Homo sapiens: one gene and its partner. The protein of the gene in region 1 purifies or fractionates together with the protein of each later gene. This does not show direct contact. Each region holds a gene or a part of one and is shown on either strand. Other genes may lie near its edges.

Region 1 (3,821 bases):
GGTTGCAGTGAGCCAAGATTGTGTCATTGCACTTCAGCCTGGGCAATACAGCAAGACTCTGTGTGTGTGTGTGTGTGTGTGTGTGTGTGTGTGTGTCTATATATATAGTGTATATATGTGTATATATGTATTATATATGTATATGTATATGCATGTATATATGCATACATATATGTACATATATACACATGTACACATAGATATATACATATATGCATGCATACATATGTATGCATATATACGTGCACATATGTACCTATGTATACATATATAAATTTTTTTAACCTTTCATTTTATATTGCTTTTTTTTTTTTTTTTTTTGAGATAGGGTCTTGCTCTGTTGCCCAACAGTTGCAGCCTCAATCTCCTGAGCTCAAGTGATCCTCCCACCTCAGCCTCCTCAGTAGCAGGGACTACAGGCCCACACCATCATGCCTGGATAATTTTTTTTTTTTTTTTTTAATTTTAAGAGATGGGTTTCCCTATGTTGTCCAGGCTGGTCATGAACTCCTAGGTGCAAATGATTCTCCTGCATCAGCTTCTTTTTTTTTTTGAGACGGAGTCTCTCTCTGTCGCCCAGGCTGGAGTGCAGTGGCGGGATCTCGGCTCACTGCAAGCTCCGCCTCCCGGGTTCACGCCATTCTCCTGCCTCAGCCTCCCAAGTAGCTGGGACTACAGGCGCCCGTCACTACGCCCGGCTAATTTTTTGTATTTTTAGTAGAGACGGGGTTTCACCGTTTTAGCCGGGATGGTCTCGATCTCCTGACCTCGTGATCCGCCCGCCTCGGCCTCCCAAAGTGCTGGGATTACAGGCGTGAGCCACCGCGCCCGGTCTCAGCTTCTTAAAATACTTGAATTATAGCACAAACCACCGTGCCTGGCCTATGTGGGTGCTTTTAAGATGTGTTTTTTTTTCCCTAAGATATTTGTGCTCTGGTGATTTGCGTTTAATAGAGGCTAATATTTTATTTTTATTAGTTTTGAAATAACAAATTATAATCAACTCAAATTAACTACAAGTTTAAGGTCCACTTGTTTCTTTTTTTTTTTTTTTTTTTTTTTGAGACAGAATCTCACTCTGTCGCCCAGGCTGGAGTGCAGTGGCGCAATCTCGGCTCACTGGAAGCTCCGCCTCCTGGGTTCACGCCATTCTCCTGCCTCAACTTCCCGAGTAGCTGGGACTACAGGCGCCCACCACCACACCCGGCTAATTTTTTGTATTTTTAGTAGAGACAGGGTTTCACCGTGGTCTCGATCTCCTGACCTCATGATCCACCTGCCTCGGCCTCCCAAAGTGCTGGGATTACAGGCGTGAGCCACCGCGCCCGGCCGGTCCACTTGTTTCTTATCCCTCGTCTTTCCTGCTCTTGTGTGAGCTTCTACCACACTGGCTGGCTGGGAGAGGGAGGAGTCGCTTGTCCTAAGAAATGTCTCTGCCTGGCCAAGGCTCTTTTCTTGACCACTGCATTGACTGGTCACCACATGAGAGGGGATCTTCTCTTAGAAACCTGGGTCTTCTGAAGTACTTCTCTTACTGCTTGGGAGTCAGTTTTTTGAATGTGGGGTGGGGGGGGGTTTTGTTTGTTTGTTTTTGAGATGGAGTCTCAGTCTGTCACCCCGGCTATAGTGCAGTGGCGTGATCTTGGCTCACTACAACCTCCGCCTCCCGGGTTCAAGCAATTCTCCTGCCTCACCCTCCCGAGTAGCTGGGATTACAGGCACCTGCTACCATGCCCGGCTAATTTTTGTATTTTTAAGATAGACAGGGTTTTACCATGTTGACCAGGCCGGTCTTGAACTCCTGACCTCAGGTGATTCCCCCACCTCAGCCTCCCAAAGTGCTGGGATTACAGGTGTGAGCCACTGCGCCCTGCCCTCGTGTTCCTTTTTACAGTTCACTTCCATACTGTTATATTTGAAGACATGGTCACTAGAGACCCAAGACATCATGGGTGTATGCTTCAGGTGTCATCACAGCTGTGTGTGACTGTAATGAATATAGGACATTTCACAAATAAAATGACCTCTTCCCTCTTCTTTCTCCTCTGTTTTCAGTCACTGCTTCAACCACCTGTGAGAAATTAGAAAAAGCCAGGAATGAGTTACAAACAGTGTATGAAGCATTCGTCCAGCAGCACCAGGCTGAAAAAACAGAACGAGAGAATCGGCTTAAAGAGTTTTACACCAGGGAGTATGAAAAGCTTCGGGACACTTACATTGAAGAAGCAGAGAAGTACAAAATGCAATTGCAAGAGCAGGTCTGTGCTTTTGCAGCCAGAGCTTGTCTGAGGCCTCTGCTGCTTACTTGAATCCTGGTTGCTCTTCACATCTTGATGAGCTTCTCTTTTTTAGTCTAATAGGTATAAAAAGCATGTTGTTGTTGTTTATTTAAGACAGAGTCCCACTCTGTCTCCCAGGCTGGAGGCTGGAGTACAGTGGCTTGATCTTGGCTCACTGCAGCCTCTGCCTCCCGGGTTCAAGTGATTCTCCTTCCTCAACCTCCTGAGTAGCTGGGACTATAGGCACCCATCACCATGCCCAGCTAATTTTTGTATTTTTAGTAGAGACGGGGTTTCACCATGTTGGCCAGGCTGGTCTCAAACTCCCAACCTCAGGTGATCCGCCTGCCTTGGAAACAGTATCTTTTTAATTGAATAGTTTTCTTATGACCAAAGGAATGTATTATGTTAAGTGAAAGAAGGGAAGAAAAGGAGGAGGAAAAGATAAAATTGAAAAAACAACCCTTTCTTTCTACCCAGAAATAATCCCTTGTAAACATCCTGGTGGTGTGTTGCCAAACTATTGTTTTGCATTTCTTTCTTTTTTTTTTTTTTAGTGGCATCTGTTTAAATATCCCATTTTTTTTTTCACTGAATAAAATATCAAACCTTTTTAATTTTGTAGCTCCCTTTTTAACTCAGTTTTTCATTTAGTAAATATCTACAGAGTGCCTACTCCAGGCCAGGCACATGCTAGGGCCTGAGTGGTCAAGTGACAGGCGCAGAGCATGTGGCCCTGTCACTGTGAAACATATCCTCGTTCCTGGTCATTCCTTGTGACTGATGCAGCCATTTCCATCTGTCACCCTGGAGAGCCTCTGTGTCTGTGTTCCTGAGGGTAGGGAAGGAGACAGAGGAGAGTTGAGCGGTGAATCCCAGTTGCGTTGCTCTTCATGCATTCTTTGTGTGTGCACATGTGGGGACAGAGTCTCGCGACATTGCCCAGGCTGGACTTGAACTGCTGGGCTCCAAGTGATCCTCCACCTCTGCCTCCCAGAGTGCTGAGGTTACAAGTGTGAACCACTGCCCTGACCTTTGTATGTGTTGAGGAGCCTTTAAACTAGAGCCCACGCTTACCTGTGAAGCTGTGACGTCTCCTAATGTGGTTGCTTTGCGTATTCAACTTAGGACATTTGGTTTTACTGTTAAACCACGGTTTTGTTTGTTGCTTACAGTTTGACAACTTAAATGCTGCGCATGAAACCTCTAAGTTGGAAATTGAAGCTAGCCACTCAGAGAAACTTGAATTGCTAAAGAAGGCCTATGAAGCCTCCCTTTCAGGCAAGGATGCTTTTTTTCCTCTTTAAACAGAATAAAATCTGAAGGAACCACATGATGTTTTAAGATGGAAATGATTCATAACTTCCTGCTTCAGCGAATGCCCTGTGGCCTTCAGGCTGGGGTGTTCTTGGTTCCTTTTTGCGTGGTTTATTGTTAACAGATGCCTTTTCCCACTAAGGATGCAAATAATAGTTACAAATGCCAGCCTTGTGTTAAATAGGATGGGCTTTGGAAGACTGTAAAGGCCATTTTGGCGGTGGT
Region 2 (3,821 bases), on another chromosome or scaffold:
GGTATCTTATTGCTAAACACAATGCTTGGCACATATGTAATATTCAGTGAAAGTTTGTGGAGTTAAACTACACAGACAGTGATGGTTAGAGGCTTTGGTTAAGAGTATGATAGTTAAATTGATAGACCAGGAATAATGTTACAACTGTAACATGTTGGTCTAGTTCATCATTAATATTTGTTGAATGGCTTCAGTGTGCTTTGTCCTAAGTTCTTAGCAAAGTGACTGATGAGTTTCAGAAAAATGAAGACTCAGATATATAAAGTGGAAGATGGTACCTCTCATAGGTTTTCTGAGTAACTGAGAAAAAGCATTTGTTTATTTTGTTAGTATTTTATTTTTAAAGTTTAATTAAGTTAAATTTTATATTTTATTTTAATTACCTGTCACTGACTTTAAGTCCAGTATTTTGCTAGTATTTTTAAACCACTGTTTCTGCTCTTCTTTCCTACCCACATACCTTTTTGTTTTCCTCTCTCCTAATCTGTCTTTACTTGGTAGTACATTTGGCCTGGTAGATTCAGATGGACCTTGCTATGCAGTGATGGTGTACAATATAGTGCAGAGCTGGGGAGTGCTCATTGGAGACTCTGTAGCCATTCCTGAGCCCAACCTGCGGCTTCACCGAATTCAGCACAAAGGAAAGGTGAGCAATGGCTAGGATTCTCTTACAACTCGTAGGCTCTAAAAGTAGAACCAAGCTTATCTTTTTATAAAAGATATAGAAATAATTATATGTAAGTATGTGTGTAGGCTATGTGTATATATATTTGTGTGTATATGTTTTATTTATATATATATATGTATTTTTTTACTAAAAAGGTAAACTGGTAAGCAGAAAAATAAAAAAATGCAGTGAAATATTATCACTCAGGTATTACTGCCTTTTAACTGTTACTGTTAACAGTTTGGTGTATATACCTGAAGTCTTTTCTTTTCACAAATATATACACATATATCTATATTTTAAATCATGAGTGGGATATTATATGCAAATGTTTGTGAATGTTTCCTATGTTTTTACATATTTCACCACATTGAGTAGACACGGGGTGATGAAGATGGTAATGATAGTTAACATTTATTTAACACTTAATTGAGTGCTAGACACTGTGCTAAGAGTTTTTATTACCTGCCTTGCCCCATTCAATTCTTAAAAAAACCTTATGAATGTAGATATTTAACTACTGTTTAACCATTTAGATCAGAGGTTGGCAAAGCCCATTGACCAAATCTGGCTCACTGCTTGTGTTTATTAATAATGGTTTCTAGGCTGGGCATGGTGGCTCATGCGTAAAATCCCAGCACTTTGGAAGGCCAAGGTGGGAGGATCACTTGAGCCCAGGAGTTTAAGACCAGCCTGGGCTATATAGTGAGACCCCGTCTCTACAAAAAAATGTTAAAAAACTTAGCCAGGTATGGTAGCACATGCCTGTAGTCCCAGCTACTAAGGAGGCTGAAGTGAGAGAACCACTTTATCTCAGGAGTTTGAGGCTGCAGTAAGCCATTATTGTCCCATTGCACGCCAGCCCGGGTGATAGAGAAAGTCTGCCTCAAAAAAAAAAGAAAAACAAGAGTGTGGTTTCTGTGTTGTTAAGTGAAAAAAATGGACAGAAGCGTAATATTTTGTGATATGTGAAAATTACAGGAAATTCAGATTTCAGTGTCCACAAATAAAGCTTTATTGGAACACAGCCACACTCATTTGCTTACTATTGTCTGTGGCTGTTTTTGCACTATAGTGTCAGAGGTGACTTGTTCTGTAACAGAGACCATATGACCTACAAAGCCTAAAATATTTACTATCTGTCCCTTTGCAGAAATACTTTGATGACCTCCGATCTAAATTAGTACTTTTATAATAGAAAAAAAATTAGAAACACAGTGAGGATTTTTGTATCTTTGCTTGTATCTATGATTAGTTCCTTAAATGAATTTCTAATGTAGACTCCTGGGTCCAAAGGGTATGCAGAATTCTGAGGCTTTTGATACATATTGCCAAATAATTCTTTGGAAAATTGTACTAGTTAGTTGTCACTACCAACAGTGGATGTAAATAAGTGTTTCTCTGTAGTTTTTTTCTCAACTCTGGTTGGAAACCTTTGAAAAGTTATTTTCTAATTTTACATGGAAAATATAGCATGAATATTAATTTATATTTCTTGTATAAATTGCCATTTTTTGTGTCACTTGTTGATATTTCTGTGAAGACTTAAAAAAAATTGGTTTATGAGAACTTTTAAATTTACTTTACTTGGACTTAAAAGAGCCTGCCTCTCATTGCCATATTTTTTGGATGAAGACTATTTAATATGTTTTACAACTTAAAATACACTTAAACTGATACAGTGAGCTGATACCTTTTTTGTTATTAGGAAAACGGCTACATTCTGTTTCATGTTCTATTTCCTCCTCTTGATATAAAAGAGAAGTAACTTTAATTTGTATTTGGTGGATTAAATTAGGACCTTATAAACATTTGGACTGAGATTTTCTCAGGATTCCCACTGGCTCTGGCCGGCTGCTATGTGTATCTAGTTAATTATCAGGAAACACCGTGGGAAAAGGCAGATTCTATGAGAGTTGGTTGCATTCTTTTGTTAGGCAATGCCAGGAACCTGCCTTTTTTGGATCAAAGAGCTGTCTCATTCTTGTAGTGGCACTACATGACCTTACATGCTCCATGTTTTCCTTCTGAAGATTGAAAACTTTGGGAAATTTTCGTCCCCTGTGTTAGCTCAGTTTTGTCTGATGTGAGATGGAAGTAGAGGGGGTATACAACAGGGGAGGTGGTGCAGAAAGTTGCAAGTGGTGTATCCCCATGCTGGAGCTTTTTCCATCTTGGAATCTGTAGTGAACCTTTGTCTGTCTGTCTTTTCTAGGACTATTCCTTTTCCAGTGTTCGAGTGGAGACGCCCCTCCTGCTAGTGGTGAATGGGAAGCCTCAGGGATCCAGCAGCCAGGCTGTTGCCACAGTGGCATCGCGACCACAGTGTGAATGACCTTTGACTTGCATGCTCAACAGGGAGTGGAGGAGAGGAGACAAGGCTCTGGACAGCCGGTCCAGCCACATCCAGTGATTCAGCAGGGATGGGAGGAATGTTTTAAATGAAGACTTTCTCTTTCCCTGCCTGTATTACACTTCGTATCTCTTCTCTCTCCTCTGTCCTCATCATGTTCCAGCTCTCTACAGGGCCACATACTCTTCTGGCATATCTCTCCTGTCTCTTCCACTGCTCTCTATGTTTTAAGCAAAGAGCATGGAATTGGTAGAAGTCTTGGGATCTTGCCATGGGACAGAGTCCCCAAGGTTCCTGTTGTTGCCTCCTTCCTAAGCCTCATATGTATATATCAGTTCAGTATTTATTGCTAAAGGAGGGGGCTTAATTTTGTAATGGCTTTTATTTTTAGCAATTTTTATTTTTATTTTTGAACTTTAGGTCCTTCCTCTTCTTTGGGGCTGGAACAGAATTAAATTTGTTTGGAAAAAAAAAAAAACACCACGTAGTTTGGCCTGCTTTATTCTCCCTAGGCCTGTATTCTTTGTTTTAGGATCACTTCAATTTATTGGAGTAATACCCCCATTTTTTTCTTTATACAAAGCAGTTTATTTCTCTCCCAGTTAAAAGAATTCCGACAATAGACAGCCCCAGGCAGGAATGGCAACTCCACAAAGTTGCTAGAGACCAGCTTTCTTCCATTTTCCCATTCTGTCATTCCCTAGGGGTGGTCTTCACTATGGTCCAAGATGACAGAGCAATACTGTTCTAATAGTGTTACTAGGCTGAAGGACCAGAGAGAGTTAGATAAATCCTCAGTTT

The links.
Region 2: the proteins of MTUS1 (region 1) and TTC5 purify together in Homo sapiens (affinity purification with mass spectrometry; one large-scale study listed by BioGRID and IntAct). This does not show direct contact.

The regions. Positions count from the first base shown.
Region 1 is NC_000008.11:17,654,300-17,658,120, reverse strand, and holds part of MTUS1 (microtubule-associated tumor suppressor 1), read left to right. Parts: intron 1-2,055; coding exon 2,056-2,258; intron 2,259-3,454; coding exon 3,455-3,560; intron 3,561-3,821. UniProt on the Homo sapiens protein: Cooperates with AGTR2 to inhibit ERK2 activation and cell proliferation. May be required for AGTR2 cell surface expression. Together with PTPN6, induces UBE2V2 expression upon angiotensin-II stimulation.
Region 2 is NC_000014.9:20,288,808-20,292,628, reverse strand, and holds part of TTC5 (tetratricopeptide repeat protein 5), read left to right. Parts: intron 1-501; coding exon 502-646; intron 647-2,882; coding exon 2,883-3,002; 3' UTR 3,003-3,821. UniProt on the Homo sapiens protein: Cofactor involved in the regulation of various cellular mechanisms such as actin regulation, autophagy, chromatin regulation and DNA repair.